Homo sapiens: one gene and its partners. The protein of the gene in region 1 interacts with the protein of each later gene in a biochemical or structural test. Each region holds a gene or a part of one and is shown on either strand. Other genes may lie near its edges.

Region 1 (3,638 bases):
ATGATAGATCCAGAGCAAGGTGGAACACCTCAGGGAGCACCCACTGGGAAAGACAGAACTCCTTCCTCAGGGGTAGCAAGTGACCCCAGGCGGATGTGGTTTCAGAGCTCAAGGAATTATCTAGTGCCCTGACCACACCAGAGATGCAGAAAGAAATCCAGGAGTTAAAGAAGGAATGCGCTGGCTACAGAGAGAGATTGAAGAACATTAAAGCAGCTACCAATCATGTGACTCCAGAAGAGAAAGAGCAGGTGAGCTGGAAGGCTGTAGGACCGCTGTGCAGGTCCAGAGTGAACATCAGGGCTGAGCCCCAGAGGGCTGCTGTGGTTCTGAGGAGTTAGAGGAACTTGCTTTTTCCTTCTAGGTGTACAGAGAGAGGCAGAAGTACTGTAAGGAGTGGAGGAAGAGGAAGAGGATGGTAAGTGTGTGGGAGCTCCGAGACAGGCCCTGGAGGTGCCTTTGAAAATGGCAGGCACCAGATCAGCCGCTACACAATATCATAAACTGACAGGCAGTGCCCAGTGCTGCCCATCTGAAAACGGGTGGTTTTATTTCTTGTCAGGCTACAGAGCTGTCTGATGCAATACTTGAAGGATACCCCAAGAGCAAGAAGCAGTTCTTTGTAAGTGGAGCTCTCTTCCTTCTTTGCTTCCCTGTGGTCTTATCCTGGTGACATCTCATTCACTTGTCTCCCTGTCTCACAGGAGGAAGTTGGGATAGAGACGGATGAAGATTACAACGTCACACTCCCAGACCCCTGAGGGGCCCACGGTCAGGACTGGTGGGGACTGCAGGATGTCAGAAGAGTGAGATGTCTTGCACTGGCTACCTTGTTTTTGGTTGGCTTTTGTTGTTGTTCCTGCTACTTTCACCTTTAAGCAGAGCAGTCAGGAGACAAGCATAAACCAGAGCACTGGGTAGAGAGGATGAGGGCTGGTGGCTGGGGGTAGACCCAGCCCATTTCATTGTCTAAATTGCAGTAGCTTGAGGTTAACATTTAGACTTGGAACAATGCTAAAGGAAAGCATTTGGCAATATTTATTATAATTTAATTTTATATAAAAATATTTAATTTCCTCTGGATAGTCAAACCTGCCAGATATCAAACCTGAGGAAGGCAGAAGTGAATTTGGAGAACTAGGGTAGAGAGAGGTTGCTATAAAACGAGCATTTGGAGGGCCCACGGCTTCACTCAGGACCTGCTGGGCTTGTGTACCCCAGGAGCCCTTTTAAGTATCTTTTGTACGCTTTTCACCCCACCCCCAAGTCCTGGGAGAAATGCAGGCAACACTGAGACATGGGAGAGGCCAAGATATGCTTGACAGAAAGGGTGATTTTGAGGCTCAGTTAATATTTCAAAATTGTAACCGTAGCAAAACTGCATTGGTATTTAGAAAAATAAAAAATTTCCAATATGTAGTGCTGTGTTATACCTGCCTCTGCCATGCAGCATCATAGCCTGTGGGAACCGGGAGGGCTTCCCTTACCACCCAGAGCAGAGGAGGAAGGTGATGGAATATGGGGTGAGGGGAGGAACCTGGTGGCCCCTCCCTGAGATGGCCAGAAAGCCCTTGGCCTCACCTGGGACTGACCAGGCAGCCCTAGTCTAGGCACAAGGTGCCCTTTCACCCTTCATGGCTGTGGGAATATTTCCTCTTACTCTTTTTCTCCCATACAGCTACTGCCAAAATGCCCAAACTTGGGCCAAATGTTGCCCAAACTTGGGCCAAAAATGTTGCCCAAGAGACCAAAACAGAGGAAAACAGTTTCCAAATCTATGTAGATCATGAGCAGAAATCTGAGGCTTGAATAAAGGGCTGAGAGGGCAGGAGCTCTTTGGGGTGTCCAGAGCAGACGCCCATCCCAAGGACTTCCATGGAGTGGGGGGAAGGCTGGGTAGGTTTGAGTTTTATCGTCAATATAATAAATTAATCAGAAGCTTTCACAAAACAAACACCGCGGCTCCGCTGAAGATAAAATGGGGCTGGGAAAAACCAAACACCAAGTAGAAACCAGCTGACCAGTGTGAGGTGTTGTAGTCCAGTCTCCCGGGCCCAGCAGTTCAGTGGCCACGTAGAGATTCAAGGGCCTCTTGTTGGCTGTTCTCCAGGTTTCCAAGAACCGGTCAGTAAAGCTGGTTTTTCAATTGGTGCAGGACGCCAATCACAATCTCCCGCAGGGTCTGGCGAGGGCAGCAGAGGAAGAAATAGACAATGCCCAAGTCAACGCAGAGTAGTTTCCAAGATGCCTGCCTAGATCAGCCATGTACTTTAGAAAAGTGCTTTAAAAATAGCCCCCCGGGGGCCAGGTGTGGTGGCTCACGCCTATAATCCCAGCACTTCGGGAGGCCAAGGCGGGTGGATCACCTGAATTTCAAGACCAGCCTGGCCAACATAGTGAAACCCCGTCTCTACTAAAAATACAAAAATTAGGTGTGGTGGCACATGCCTGTAATCCCAGCTACACAGGAGGCTGAGGTATGAGAATCGCCTGAACCCAGGAGGTGGAAGTTGCAGTGAGCTGACATCACACCACTGCACTCCAGCCTTGGTGACAGAGTGAGACTCCGTCTCAAAAAAAAAAAAAAAAAGCCCCCAGGAAGTACTGATGTCTGCAGTTTAATTTGAGGTGCTCCTGAAGCAAGATGGAGAGATGGAAATATAGTAAAATGTTTCGGTAAAATTTAGGGAGCGGGTATACGAGTGTTCACTGTGAACTCCTCTCAACATCGCAATATGTTTAATGTGTTTCACAATAAAAATGTTGGGAAACGAGGCCAGGCACAGTGGCTCATGCCTGTAATCCCAGCACTTTGGGAGGCCGAGGCGGGTGGATCACAAGGTCAGGAGATCGAGACCATCCTGGCTAACACGGTGAAACCCCGTCTTACTAAAAAATACAAAAAATTGGCCAGGTATGGTGGCACACGCCTGTAGTCCCAGCTACTCGGGAGGCTGAGGCAGGAGAATGGCGTGAACCCGGGAGGCGGAGGTTGCAGTGAGCCGAGATTGTGCCACTGCACTCCAGCCTGGGCGACAGAACGAGACTCCCGTCTCAAAAAAAAAAATGTTGAGAAACAAACAAGAAATCTCAGACACAAGTTTAAAACCTCAGAAAAAGCAACCAGACTTCAATTAGAAGACTTAGTGCAATACCATTAGCACATCTCCATTATAAATAAATTTTTAAAAAGCTCTTGGGGCAACTACTTTAGGGGGCCTAAAGGTAGGGTCCCAGAATTTGCGTTTCCAATTCTGCTGCAGATGCCTGGGGCTTCCATACAGGGGCAGCGATAACATGGGCTAGACAAAAGCCAAGAGCTGGACTTCACATTGAGCTCACGTCACACTTGCCGAATGAAACCGTAACATGAAGATGTGGGTTAGACAGCAAAGAAAAGGGAAAATACCAGGGCCCTCAAAGCTGTAGAAACGCCCTTAAGATCTAAAAGCAGCTGCCACGCTTTTCTCAACAGCTGATGGCTTGGGCCACTTTGCTTGATGGTAGAGAAAACCGCAGACCCTGTGCCTATTGTTGCCCCATACCTGAGGCTTACAGTGCTCCTCGATCCAGCTGAAGACACACGCTGACAGCTCCTGGAAGCTGGCCACTGAGATGGAGGCATTGAAGGACTGGAA
Region 2 (7,034 bases), on another chromosome or scaffold:
TCACCCCCCCCCCACTTGGAGCCCACCCGTATCCCCCTCTTGCCCACACCCCACTCAGAACCCACCCTTAGGCCCCTCTCGCCCCCACCCCACTCAGAGCCCACCCTTAGCCCCTCTTGCCCACACCCCACTTGGAGCCCAGCCTTAGGCACCCCCCTCACCCCCATCCCACTCAGAGCCCACCCATATCTCCCTCTTGCCCACACACCACTCAGAGCCCACCCTTAGGCCCCTCTCGCCCCCACCCCACTCGGAGCCCAGCCTTAGGCCCCTCTCGCCCCATTACACTCTTCACCCCACTCCTAGGCTCCACCTGTTGACCTTCCAACAAACCAAGCTTGTCCCGGACCCAGTGACCTCACGTTCCCCCTCATCTCCAACTCACCCTCTTGAACTTCTGCCACCCTGGGGCCCCTCCCATGCCAGGCCTCCTCCCCTAGCACCGTACCCCTTTTCCACCCTGGCACTCGCTCTGGGCACCCCCTTTCTGCACCTCCAGCAGATCAGGGAAGGGGAGCCACCAGGGGGTGGGGAGGGGGACTTCCTGAGCTAAGCCTGGGGCTGGGGAGGGGAGGGGGCTCCTTCCTGGGGTCCCTGTTCACATCCACAGTCCCCTGCTCTCTCCCACGCAAGCTCATTCCACCCAAGACGGTTGCTGCTTCCCCTAATCGAGACAGAAACCCTCCCAGTTTCACAATCTTCTGTGGAAGGGACCCCCACCCTCTGCCCGCCAGTCCCCATGTCCCCACCCGCCAAGGCTGGGGACAGGCCACTCTCCTCTCAGCTGTTTCCCAGCCATAGCCCTGGCCCTAACTGCTGTTGCCCTGTGTGTCTGAATTACAGATTTCTTTACCAACTCCCGCCTCCCACAGCCGCCCATGCCTTCAAACTTCCCAGAGCCCCCCAGCTTCAGCCCCGTGGTTGACTCCCTCTTCAGCAGTGGGACCCTGGGCCCAGAGGTGCCCCCGGCTTCCTCGGCCATGACCCACCTCTCTGGACACAGCCGTCTGCAGGTGAGCTCACCCCACCCCGTCCAGCCCTGTGTAGCTCACTTGAGAGCTGTTCCTGCCCTGTTCATGTCCAGGAGGTATCAGACACTCCCTGAGTGCCCAGTCTTCTGCTTGGAGATTGGAGGGAAAGAAAGACCCCATCTCTGCCCTCTGGGAGGGACCCCGTGAAGCAGAACTGGACAAAACGGTTGTGGGAGAAAGCTAAGGGCATGGAGACCATGGAATGGGCTCCACCAAGGGCCAGTTGCTTGTGGAAGGCTTCCTGGAGAAGGGGAGTTTCTGGGCCTTAGAGAATAGGTCAGCTTTGGACAGAAGGGACTGGCTGACCTCAAGCCAGATGGGAGAACAGCAGGAACAAAAGCTTCGAGGCAGAAAGCTGAGCGTGGATGTTTAGGAAACAGTGAATCTACCATTTTGGTTCATCAATTCCCCATATGCAATTCTTTTTTTTTTTTTTCTTTGAGACAGAGTCTCACTCTGTCGCCTAGGCTCGAGTGCAGTGGCATGATCTCGGCTCACTGTAACCTCCGCCTCCCGTGTTCAAGCGATTTCCGGCTTATTTTTGTATTTTTAGTAGAGACAGGGTTTCACCATGTTGCCCAGGCTGGTCTCAAACTCCTGACCTCAGTAGTCCGCCCGCCTCGGCCTCCCAAGGTGGTGGGATTACAGGTGTGAGCCACCACACCTGGCCCCCAGGTGCAGTTCAGAAGTTGCTTCCTGCTGCTTGGTTATAGGCCTTTTCCCTCCATCATCAGACTTTTCAGGTGCTAATTCTAATCGGTTGCTGAGGGGTGTCTCTCCTCCATCAGACAGTGAGCTCCTTACTGAAAGGGTTATGTTTTGCTCACCACTGCATTCTCTATACCTAATACAGCTCAGGCACATAACAGCACTCAGTGAATGGTTGTCCAATGAGTGAGTCAGTGACTGAATGAATGAGCAAGTGTGCAGATGAATGGGCGTGCTGGTGAATGGATAGATGCATCTTAGACTGCGGTGGAGGCACACGTGGGTTGGTGGATATATGGGTAGGTGAGTGGTTGGGTGGATGGGTGGGCTGGTGGATGGATACATAGATGAATAGTTTAATGGATTAGTGAATGGGTTCATTGGTGGTTAAGTGGCTGGAAATGTATAGATGGTGGATGGATGGAAGGATTATGGATGGGTTGGTGGATGAATGATGGAAGTATAGATGGTTGGATGGATTAGTTAATATGTTAATATCTGGTAGGCTGGTGGAGAGAGTGGTAGATGAGCTGGTTCATAGATTGATAAATAGGTAGGTGAATGGATGGAAGACGGATGGATGGAGAGATTGGTGGATGAAGTAGTAGATGGACAATTGATGAATGGATGGGTGGGTTGGTTAGTGGATGGATTGGTGAAGTTAGTGGATGGATGATGAAGGAATGGTAGGTTGGTTGGTGGATGGATCAGTGGACAAGTTAGTGGATGGATGGATGATGAATGGATGGGTGAGTTGGTTGGTGGATGGATTGGTGGACAAGTTAGTGGATGGATGGATGAATAAGTTATTTGGGAGACAAATGGACGGGCAGGAAGATTGATGCTCCGCTGTTCCTGCTTTTTGCATAAATGTACTCGACTCCCTCCTCTCATTGTAATTTCCCTGCTGCATGTATATGTTCGCACACCTGTGTGTGTTGGAAGGCAGGGCTCATTTCTCCTATCTCTCCCCAGGGCCCCAGTCTAGAGTTTGGCCAGGGCAAGGCAGGGCAGGGGAGGCCCAGATGGCTGCCAGGGGCAGCTCTCTCCCCTGCTCTCTGAGTGTCTGTCTGTCCCCCCAACCAGGCTCGGAACAGCTGCCCTGGCCCCTTGGACTCCAGCGCCTTCCTGAGTTCTGATTTCCTCCTTCCTGAAGACCCCAAGCCCCGGCTCCCACCCCCTCCTGTACCCCCACCTCTGCTGCATTACCCTCCCCCTGCCAAGGTGCCAGGCCTGGAGCCCTGCCCCCCACCTCCCTTCCCTCCCATGGCACCACCCACTGCTTTGCTGCAGGAAGAGCCTCTCTTCTCTCCCAGGTTTCCCTTCCCCACCGTCCCTCCTGCCCCAGGAGTGTCTCCGCTGCCTGCTCCTGCAGCCTTCCCACCCACCCCACAGTCTGTCCCCAGCCCAGCCCCCACCCCCTTCCCCATAGAGCTTCTACCCTTGGGGTATTCGGAGCCTGCCTTTGGGCCTTGCTTCTCCATGCCCAGAGGCAAGCCCCCCGCCCCATCCCCTAGGGGACAGAAAGCCAGCCCCCCTACCTTAGCCCCTGCCACTGCCAGTCCCCCCACCACTGCGGGGAGCAACAACCCCTGCCTCACACAGCTGCTCACAGCAGGTGAGGGCCAGCAACGGGGAGAGGAAAGCCTGGGGAGGGAGGCCAGGGGGTGGGGAGGACAGGGGGTTTTGGGAGCAGAAGATGAAGGTGAAGGGGCAGGTCCAGTTCAAGGGACAGAGTGGCAAGGAATGAGGGATGTGGGGCCTGTACCTAAAAGGGGTGTGGACTCTTGGGAGGGGCAGGATGGGGTCTTGATAGATGCCGGGGGTGGGCCAGCCCCAGTAGCCTCACGGTTCTGCCCGTGCACAGCTAAGCCGGAGCAAGCCCTGGAGCCACCACTTGTATCCAGCACCCTCCTCCGGTCCCCAGGGTCCCCGGTAAGATCTCGGGCACTGGGCGGTGGGGCTGTGCCCACGGCCTTCAACCCGACTCTCCGCCCTTCTCCACCCCAGCAGGAGACAGTCCCTGAATTCCCCTGCACATTCCTTCCCCCGACCCCGGCCCCTACACCGCCCCGGCCACCTCCAGGCCCGGCCACATTGGCCCCTTCCAGGCCCCTGCTTGTCCCCAAAGCGGAGCGGCTCTCACCCCCAGCGCCCAGCGGTAAAGAGAGGGGTTGCAGGGATTGGGGGAATCTAGGGGATGAGGGGAAGAGGAGGAAGAAGAAGGGGACTGGGTCTGGGGCCAGATGAGAGGAAGGGGGCAATGGGGACCCTTTCCCCTGGGTCGGTCTTTCTGTGGGTCTGTCTGTCCCTACCACAGGCAGTGAACGGCGGCTGTCAGGGGACCTCAGCTCCATGCCAGGCCCTGGGACTCTGAGCGTCCGTGTCTCTCCCCCGCAACCCATCCTCAGCCGGGGCCGTCCAGACAGCAACAAGGTGGGCACCATCCCCCACCCCAAGATCGGTTTGCTACCCCCAGGCCCTCCTGGGCTCCTTCCTAGGCTCACCCAACTCTCTGCTCCCCGAGACCGAGAACCGGCGTATCACACACATCTCCGCGGAGCAGAAGCGGCGCTTCAACATCAAGCTGGGGTTTGACACCCTTCATGGGCTCGTGAGCACACTCAGTGCCCAGCCCAGCCTCAAGGTGAGCCCCGGGCCCAGGCTGGCACCCCCAAAACCACAGGGCCCCTTTCTGGACCCCCCCCACCCAAAACTCAATTGCAGGGGAGTGCTCCAGACACTCTTGCCTCCTCCCATCCCAGTGCCTCAGTGGGTCCCAGGGTACAGCCTCTAGCACCTGCCTGAGCCCCCCTGGTGGCGTCTGCAGGTGAGCAAAGCTACCACGCTGCAGAAGACAGCTGAGTACATCCTTATGCTACAGCAGGAGCGTGCGGGCTTGCAGGAGGAGGCCCAGCAGCTGCGGGATGAGATTGAGGAGCTCAATGCCGCCATTAAGTAGGCAGGGTCCAGGCGGGTGCTGGGACCAGGGGGCCATGCCGCCTTACCCCCAGCCCCTGACCCCTGCCCTGCCCCCAGCCTGTGCCAGCAGCAGCTGCCCGCCACAGGGGTACCCATCACACACCAGCGTTTTGACCAGATGCGAGACATGTTTGATGACTACGTCCGAACCCGTACGCTGCACAACTGGAAGTTCTGGGTGGTATCCTCCCTCAAGCCCATGGCTGGGGGGCTGCAGGGGCTGTGGCAGGGTGAGACCAGGCTGGGCCTGGGATGGAGGCCTAGCTCTCCAGGCCGGGCAGGCTCAGAGCTGCTCCCAGGTGACAGGCTCTGGCTCTGCCCCCTGCTTCCATGCCCTGGCCATCTTGGCCAGCAAAATTGCCCAGGGATGGGGGGCTGGGAGCAGAGAGGGAAACTGAGGGAGGAGTCCTTGGGTAAGGGGAGCCTTGGCCCTGACCTCAGGAAGCCCCGAGGGCAGTTTGGGAGAATCTGAACTCTGGAGTGAGGACTACAGAAGACTTGGAATCCACTCCCTGATCTGGCTCAGGGGTCAAGTTCTTGACTGAGCCCAGGCAGGGAGCTCAGGGATGGGGGATGGTTCAGCACACAGTAAGGGCCGTGGAGGGGCAAGGAGGAGGGGACTGAGAGGCAGAGAGCTGGGAAGGTCTTGGCAGGACAGAAGTAGGGACTGCAAGCCAGGTGCGGTGGCTCACGCCTGTCATCCCAGCACTTTGGGAGGCCGAGGCAGGTGGATCACTTGAGGCCAGGAGTTCAAGACCAGACTGGCCAACATGGCAAAACCCCATCTCTACTAAAAATACAAAAATTAGCCAAGCGTGGTGGCATGTGCCTGTAATCCCAACTACTCGGGAGGCTGAGGCAGGAGAACAGCTTGAACCTGGGAGGTGGAGGTTGCAGTGAGCCAAGATTGTGCCACTGCATTCCAGCCTGGGCAGCAGAGTGAGACTCTGTCAAAAAAAAAAAAAAAAAAAGTCCGAGCACAGTGGCTCACGCCTGTAATTCCAGCACTTTAGGAGGCTGAGGTGGGTGGATCACGAGGTCAGGAGTTCGAGACCAGCCTGACCAACATAGCGAAACCCCGTCTCTACTAAAAATACAAAAATTAGCCAGGTGTGGTGGCGCACACCTGTAATCCCAGCTACTCAGGAGGCTGAGGCAGGAGAATTGCTTGAACCTGGGAGGCAGAAGTTGCAGTGAGCTGAGATCGTGCCACTGCACTTCAGCCTGGGTGACAGAGCGAGACTCCGTCTCAAAAAAAAAAAAAGAAGAAGTAGGGGCTGCAACATGAGTCATTGGGGTTCAACGTTAGACAGTGTCCAGGCCCTTTCTTCCCCTGGTTTGAACTGGGCATCAGGGCTCCACGTGGTGTGGGGGGACCAGCTGGACCACAGGCAGCTCCTTGACCTGGGCCCAGTTCAGCATCCTCATCCGGCCTCTGTTTGAGTCCTTCAACGGGATGGTGTCCACGGCAAGTGTGCACACCCTCCGCCAGACCTCACTGGCCTGGCTGGACCAGTACTGCTCTCTGCCCGCTCTCCGGCCAAGTACGTGAGCCATCTCCCTGCCTGCTAGAGGGACCCAGCCTCGGGGGTGGAGGGAGCATTCCACCCTGCTTAGATCCCACATCCAGCTTGCCATCAACACAGCCTAGGGTTGTGGCCACCCCGCATCCCCCAGATGGTCCTCTGGCCACCAGACGCCTGTAGACAGAGGTTCTAGGAGGGGGTGACAGTCTTGCCAACTAATACCTCCCCCTATCCCTTTGGTTCCACATCCAAGGGTAGGGCCCTGACCCCAGGAAGTGTCTGTCTCTCTCTCTCTGTCTCCCACCCAGCTGTCCTGAACTCCCTACGCCAGCTGGGCACATCTACCAGTATCCTGACCGACCCGGGCCGCATCCCTGAGCAAGCCACACGGGCAGTCACAGAGGGCACCCTTGGCAAACCTTTATAGTCCTGGCCAGACCCTGCTGCTCACTCAGCTGCCCTGGGGGCTGCTTTCCCTGGGCACGGGCTCCAGGGATCATCTCTGGGCACTCCCTTCCTGCCCCAGGCCCTGGCTCTGCCCTTCCCTGGGGGGTGGAGCAGGGTCCAGGTTTCACACTTGCCACCTCCTGGAGGTCAAGAAGAGCAGAGTCCCCGTCCCTGCTCTGCCACTGTGCTCCAGCACCGTGACCTTGGGTGACTCGTCCGCTGTCTTTGGACCGCTGTGTTTCAATCTGCAAAATGGGGATGGGGAAGGTTCAATCAGCAGATGACCCCCAGGCCTTGGCAGCTGTGACATTGGGGGCCTAGGCTGGCAACTCCGGGGGCT
Region 3 (6,852 bases), about 40 Mb from region 1:
ACAGGGCTAGGGGTGGAGGAGTCCACACTGGTGGGCCCCAGCAGCCACAGGAATTCTCCCATCTGCACGCTAAACAGGAGGCTTGGTGCCTAAGGCAGGCCCAGGGTAAGCCTTGGAGAGTTGGTCAGGAGCCTCTGGACACTCCAACCAACTCCCTCGAAACAAGGCAGAAGAGTTGCATCTGAGCCACCTCTATGAACACTAGAAATGACCAGGCCAGGCCTTCCGTCTGGGCACCAGGATAGCTCTGCCCTTTCCCCTCTCTCTCACAGGCACACACATCTGCGGGGTCCTCATGTGAGCAAACTGGCTGGTCTAGGTCAGAAACCCATGCTTGCGGTTGAAAGGGAGAAAGGACAAGAGGATCCCTGTCCAGAGCTGGTCCTAGGTCCCGGGAAAGCGTTCTGGTCAGCAGGTTCACCTGCCATGCCCTTCCTTCCATTCGTCCTGCCCCAGCTCAGAGGACAGAACCTCAAGAGGGAGAAGAAAATGAATTCTGGAGGAGAAACTGCTGGGATCGGTTCCGGACACCCGTACATGAGTTTTTGAGTAGATCTAGCTTTCCGCACCCACTCATCTACAAAGACCTCTGACCGGCACACAGAAGTCGTGACCAGGCCGCTGAACTCGGCCTAAACACAGTGCGTACTCGAACTGCAACGTGTTGATGGCGGCAGCAGGTGACTTAATCTCTCCGAACCTTGTGCACGGTCTTCCCCTGACCCCTGTGCCCAAACGTAGGACATTCTTGGTCACCAGGGGCACTCTCCACTGCCAGACCCTGCTCTGGACCATCAAGGCAACAGCCGGGGAGTGTGGGCGATGTCCCCGCCCATCACTTCTGCAAAACCCAGGCATCTGAGCCTCACATATCTCCAGTGACTCTTGACCTTGAGAGGCCGGTCGCCCCGACTAGGCCGCCGGCCCCGCAGCTCCCCCGCCCCTTGCCCGCTGCCGCTCCCCCCTTCCCCCACCCCCGCCCGCCGCGGCGGCGGCACACGGCGGCGCGCGCGCACACAACACACTACTACCTCCTGCATGACTCATCATTGAAGCAACAATAGGCAGAGAGAAAGGAAAGGAGGGCGAAGCACTCTCCAACACAACCAACCCTGCCGGGGGATTCTGGGGGGCGGGGAGGGCACAGGAGTCCCCGGGTCCTGCACACACACCGTTCCAGAGCCGAGGCCCTGGCAGCACCCTGGAAAAGGGAGGTCTTTCCCGCCAGCCCCTCTGCAGCACCCTGAAGCCAGGGACCACCAACAGGGCGCGTGAAGATAGGAGTCATTAGTCTCTTCCCTTTCGAGGGAGCGCCGAAGTTTGCCCTTTCTCATCCTGGCTCATTCCAGCGTGGCCCCGGCTGATGCCAGGGGGCATAGTTGGAACGTTTTGGGGGTCAGTGGAAAAATGTGAGCTCTAAATGTCTCGTCGCCCTGCGATTCTGAGGGTTTCCCTTGCCTCGGGATCAAACACAGGAGGTTAGGGGCCAGAGCCGACAGGTGAGCTCGGCTCCTCCCTCGCAGGGCAAAGGCTCTCCCTGGGAGGTGCCCAGAGGCCGGGGCCCGGGCCCAGGCCCAACCCAGCGCAAGGCCCCTTGCCAGCCCCGCCCAGGCCCCGCCCCCGGCCGAGCGCGAGGCGGTGAGGAGGGGCCGGGCCGCGCCGTCCCCAGCAGGAGTGTCCCCGGTGCACGTGGTCGGGGGCGGAGCCCGTCCACGTCACCACCCGGTGTAACCAACGGGCTCGGAACGCAGGCACACGCAACATTCCAGGCGAGAGCGGGTTTGGAACGCGCAGACACGCCACATTCCACACTGGCTAAAGCGGGGCGCAGCGAGGGGGGCCCGGGGGCTGACCCCCAGCGACCCGCGGGCCATTTCGCAAACGCCCAATTAGCCCGGCTTTCACCCAAACCCCGGACGCGCAGCCCAGCCCAGCTCTGGGAGGCGGGGTCAGGCGGGGCTGGCCAGGATCATAAGACACGCGATGTCATTTCATTCTGCAAAGGCCGCCTCCGCCCCAAGCGGCGCGTAGATCTGCCGGGAGCGCCCCCCGCACCCTCCCCACGGGGCCAGGGAAGCCGAAGAGCTGCTCCGCGTAGAGTAGTCCCCACCCCCACTCCGTTACACACACGCCCACTCGTGTGCTATACACACGCCCGTGTACACGTCCGTTCATCTGCTCTTCCCGAGGCTCACATCACACATCCCCCGTGCACACACGCACGCACACGCGAGCCTGCCACCCCCACGCAACACCATTCCTCACCCCACCCCCCGGCTCACACATCCTCAGTGCCACCGAGGGCTCCGCTGGCCCACGCAAAAGCAGCCCACCACAGAAGGGGCACAGGGGTGCCACGCAGCCGGGGTGGCGCCCGCAGGAGCCAGGTCCCTCGCAGCATGTTAATGAATTCATTAATTAATTTCACTGCCCACATCACCCCTCCCCAGGCGGCGGCTCTCGCGGGGAGCCGTGCGCTGCCAGGCTCCGCAGGCCGCCCGGGAGGGGGCCCTGTCCGCGGTTTCGCGTGGGTTCGGGGACCGGGGTCACTCGCTTCCCCTTCCCCAGTGCCCCAGGGGCCCAGCCCGGCCGCTCACCACGTGCTCTCTGTTGTTGCTGCGCTTGCCATTCCAGGAAGCGGGCCGCCTCCAGTAGCGTCTCTATGCTCATCGCGCCGAGAGCTGCCGGGGGCGCGCCGGGGCCGAGGCTGCGGCCCGCGAGCCGGGCACAGGTCAGGCTGGCGGGCAGGCAGGAGGGAGGGATCACCTCCGGGGGGCGACAGGGCTGGGCGGCGCAGCGCACTCCGCAGGGAAGAACGGGGGAGCACGGGGAGAAAAATCAATGTCTCTCAAAATATTTGCAAAATATAAAATTGCAAATTTAAAAAAATGGGATGCAAAAAAAAAAAAAAGGCGGCACTGCCTCCCTTCTTCCCCTCCCTCTCTACCTCCCTTCCGATGCCTCCCGCCCCGCGGCCCCCGGGAGTCCCGCCGACAAGAAAGGGCTTTGCAACAAGATGGCGAGGAGGCACCGACACACACAACAAGGGAAGGAGCCGCGCTGCCCCCGGCCGCCGCCCCCGCTACTACACCGGGGCCACAGCCAAAGCCCGGACCGGAGCCCCCGCCCGCAGGGCCGCGGCGTCTCGCGAAGGGAGGGGCGGGTCCTGCGCTGCTGGCCCCGCCCCCCGGATCCGGCGCGCGCACACGTGGCCCGGGCAGGGAGGGAGAGGTCCGAGCGGGGTGTGCGCGCCGCGGTTCCGCTTTCCTGCTGGCCCCGCCCCGGCTGCAAGCCACAAGTTGGGCCGGGGCGGTGCGTTTGGGTCGTTCACGACGAAATCTGTCCTGCTGGAGGGAGGGTAGGGTGAACAATTCAAGATTTAACAGAGTTCCAACCAGGATATTCCGGGTCAGGGAAACCTTGGGAATGGCAGAGACTGGCCTGACCCTGGGTCTCCACGCTCCACCCACTCGCGACCTAAATCCCGCAATCGCCGGGCTGTCGCAATTCCCCCGGGATCCGCCCCTGGGCGGAGCTGCCGGCGACTGGAGACTGTCAAGAGAACCAGCGGAGGGAGCGGAGCGGCAGTCCGGCTCCGCGTTTTGTCTCCGTTCCTCCCCCCGCAGTGCGTTCGCATCCTATTAGGGGACGTCACCGGGCCGCGAGCCAATGGGCGGGCAGGACAACACGGCATGGAGCAGCTCCACATGGACACCCCGCGCCGCCAGCCTTCGGTTTAAAGGGCCAGTGTCTGCAGGTCACATTCGCGGGTGCGGATGGGGCCACTGGGCGAACCCAGGGTGGGATGCCGTAAGGGGAATCCCGCAGTCGTGCCCTGGCCTCTCCATTCCTTTTCACCACCTTCCATTTAAAACCAGGCCTTTATCTTTCCTTCCCCTGAACTCCAGTCTTTGTCCACGCGTATTCGATGTGGGTGGAGATACGGACTGTGCCACCCCATGGGCCACCCTTTCCTCTGGGGCCGGGGCCAGGGCGGGGAACACGAAGCGCCCGCAGCCCAGACCGGGGGGCGTGGCCCAAATCGGGAACAACAACGTGGAGGGCGGAAGCCCGGCCCTCCCCGCGCCTGGCGACCGGCGGTGGGCGGGGCGCGGGGGCGGGGTCCGCTGCGGCCGGCTGGAACCGCGCTCCCCAGAGGGAGGGACCCCCCGTCGCCCGCCCGCCCGCCCGCGTCTTCCGGGCTCGAGTGTTTAGGGGAGCTCGGGTGCAATCGGAGAGTTAGCTCTTTGAGGCCGGCTGCCCTTAAATCCTCTCACTTCACACATAAGGAAACTGAGGCCGTGACGGCCAAGGACTCGCCTAAGGTCGTTCCGTATTCCACCTGCTCCTCTCTCCCGAAGCGGGGGCACTCTTCCCTGACCCCAGGGACGACTCTGAAGCCAGTTCTGGAGGAGGGCCCCCAATTAGAAAAATGCCAGGGAGGAATAGCAACCCTGACCACTTAACACACTGTGATTGGGGCAACAAAAATCTTCACCTGAGACCCAACTCCGCTGTTCTGCTTCCTCGGTGGAAGCCACACGAACCCCACTGGTACAGCGGCAGCGATAGACCCCAGGCGGCTGAAAGCTTATTTGGAGCGTCCCGGAGCATGTCGATTGTGCTGTGCCAGTGCAGGGGGAGTACCCCTCAGTTCTGGCCCCAGGCTCCATTCTTTGCTAACCGGTCCAAGAAGTGGGGGGGCAGTCAGTGCCAGTGGGTTTAGAACTCCTCAGCCGCGGCTTCAACATCACACACAACCAGAAAGCAAACCTTCATGAGGCTGAGAGGCAGGCCGCCCTGCCAATACATTCCATCACATGGCACCCTCGGAGCGTTCCTATTTTAGGGACTGGTTGGAAGACAGCTAGAAACATAGAAAGCAGGCAAAATGTTTGCTGGCTTTACTCCTTTCCTTTGAGGGCATCGTCATGCATCCTAGGGGGGAAAAATCTGCACAGATCCTGGAAATCAAGAACTTCGTGAACCAGAGGAAGGGGGCTGTTTGCCAGTACTAGTCTACAGAGGCCTCTGATCTTTTCACATTTAATGCCCCAGCATCTAGAGCTGAGCATGCAGAAGTCGCCACACACACAAATGTCCAGGTAGGTACCACTGATTTTGCTTATGATGAAGCTGGAGCAAAGGCGGATTAGAACGGAACAGCCCAGTTCTTCTCCATGGGATGAGTGCCCCTTTGCTGGGAGGGCCAGATCTGTGCTGGCTCCAACATTGCTTCCTTTAAGGTGTCTGCCACTTGCCACCAGTATGGTTGGGCCTGGCCCATTCTGCACAACTAGAGAAAATGGAAAATTCAAAGGCAATATAATATATAGGCGGCAGTGGAACAGGGACTCTCAACAGTATACAGACAGTCCCTGACTTGTGATGGTTTGACACAGGACTTTCCAAGTTTGCAATGGTTGTAAAAGTGATAATCTAGCATGCGCTCAATTTAGGATGGGATTATGGCTGGTGAAACCCGTCCTAAGTGGAGCTGCATCTATACATGATTGTGACCTGAGTTAATGCTTTTGGGCAAGTTCTTATTTTGTGTGGGGTCAGCACCGTGGTGCACAGTGCTCCATCCAGCTGTCCCTTCCTGCTCTCCTCAGGTGGCCATGCACTCATACAGCCCTGGAGTTTCTGCTGAAGGCTGAGGTTTAATTTTTTACACTCTTCTTTGTCACTGGCCAACTCTATACCAGTAAGTAGGCACCTCTCTGAAAGGCAGTGTTCTTAAGACACTGTTCGCTTCAGGGGTGAGGAAGCAGAAGGTAAGAGTAGAGTGAACACAGATTTGAATGCCAGCCTCTCCATTGCCCCCAATACTCCATCTGCTCCAGAGCTTAGTGGAGATGTTTGCTATTTAAAACAAACAGCCTTACTGGCTTCACATGATCATCTGTTTATTTGGGTCATGTGGGGACAGCAGCCAGGGGATGTTAGACAAAAACAAGGGTTTAGAAGGGAGGCTGCAGGCCAGGAGCGGTGGCTCACGCCTGTAATCCCAGCACTTTGGGAGGCCGAGGTGCATGGATCACTTGAGGTCCGGAGTTCGAGACAATCCTGGCCAACGTGGTGTGGTGAAACCCTGTCTCTACTAAAAAAAAAAAAAAAAAAAGGAAGAAAAAAGAAAATTAGCTGGGCGTGGTGGCAGGCGCCTGTAATCCCAGCTACTGGGGGTGGTTAAGGCAGGAGAGTCACTTGAACCCGGGAGGTGGAGGTTGCAGTGAGCTGAGATGACACCACTGCACTCCAGCCTGGGCCACAGAGAGAGACTCCGTCTCCAAAAAAAAAAAAAAAAAAAAAAAAAAAGGGTGGGGGAGGCTGTTTCTGGACCTATTGTTGCCTACAGGAGCCTGAAAATGGCCAAAAACAATACCTCATCAACCAAGCTTTCCCCAGTTGAGGAATGGACAGTGGGGGTGGGAGATACCTATAAATGGCGATGTGAGGGCATGAAAGAAGAGGGGAATGAATAGGAGGGCTGTTTAATATTTTAGCCCCAGCTTCCTGTTCCAAGGGGGTGGAGCCAGGATAGAAGCTGGCAAATGTACTCACTCAAGAGAAAGAGAAATAAGTCCTTTTGGTTTCAGCAGAAAGGTTAGCAGGTTTGGGGAATTATCCAAAGGCCAGCAATCTCTAAAAAGGTGTTCCTTAAGTTTCTTTTTCTTTTTTTCTTTTTTGAGATAGAGTCTCCCTCTGTTGCCCAGGCTGGAGTGCAGTGGTGTGATCTTGGCTCACTGCAACTTCTGCCTCCCAGGTTCAAGTGATTCTCCTGCCTCAGCCTCCGGAGTAGCTGGGATTACAAGCACGCACCACCACGCCCGGCTAATTTTTGTATTTTTA

The links. Proteins that work in one complex are often made in the same cells at the same time.
Region 2: the proteins of MLX (region 1) and MLXIPL form a complex in vitro, tested with the Homo sapiens proteins (one study listed by BioGRID).
Region 3: the proteins of MLX (region 1) and MNT form a complex in vitro, tested with the Homo sapiens proteins (one study listed by BioGRID).

What each region holds. Positions count from the first base shown.
Region 1 is NC_000017.11:42,570,091-42,573,728, reverse strand, and holds the end of MLX (max-like protein X), read right to left. Parts: coding exon 3,546-3,638; intron 2,183-3,545; coding exon 2,126-2,182; 3' UTR 762-2,125; coding exon of another isoform or gene 705-761; 3' UTR 623-704; coding exon of another isoform or gene 563-622; 3' UTR 526-562; downstream 1-525. Other genes in the region: PSMC3IP (homologous-pairing protein 2 homolog), read left to right, coding at 106-251, 365-418, 563-622, 705-761. UniProt on the Homo sapiens protein: Transcription regulator. Forms a sequence-specific DNA-binding protein complex with MAD1, MAD4, MNT, WBSCR14 and MLXIP which recognizes the core sequence 5'-CACGTG-3'. The TCFL4-MAD1, TCFL4-MAD4, TCFL4-WBSCR14 complexes are transcriptional repressors.
Region 2 is NC_000007.14:73,593,505-73,600,538, reverse strand, and holds part of MLXIPL (carbohydrate-responsive element-binding protein), read left to right. Parts: intron 1-843; coding exon 844-1,013; intron 1,014-2,825; coding exon 2,826-3,357; intron 3,358-3,606; coding exon 3,607-3,674; intron 3,675-3,749; coding exon 3,750-3,900; intron 3,901-4,059; coding exon 4,060-4,175; intron 4,176-4,266; coding exon 4,267-4,386; intron 4,387-4,569; coding exon 4,570-4,697; intron 4,698-4,778; coding exon 4,779-4,902; intron 4,903-6,135; coding exon 6,136-6,265; intron 6,266-6,555; coding exon 6,556-6,674; 3' UTR 6,675-7,034. UniProt on the Homo sapiens protein: Binds DNA as a heterodimer with MLX/TCFL4 and activates transcription. Binds to the canonical E box sequence 5'-CACGTG-3'. Plays a role in transcriptional activation of glycolytic target genes. Involved in glucose-responsive gene regulation.
Region 3 is NC_000017.11:2,398,043-2,404,894, forward strand, and holds the start of MNT (max-binding protein MNT), read right to left. Parts: upstream 3,019-6,852; 5' UTR 2,671-3,018; coding exon 2,598-2,670; intron 1,561-2,597; exon of another isoform or gene 1,173-1,560; intron 951-1,172; exon of another isoform or gene 747-950; coding exon of another isoform or gene 650-746; intron 1-649. UniProt on the Homo sapiens protein: Binds DNA as a heterodimer with MAX and represses transcription. Binds to the canonical E box sequence 5'-CACGTG-3' and, with higher affinity, to 5'-CACGCG-3'.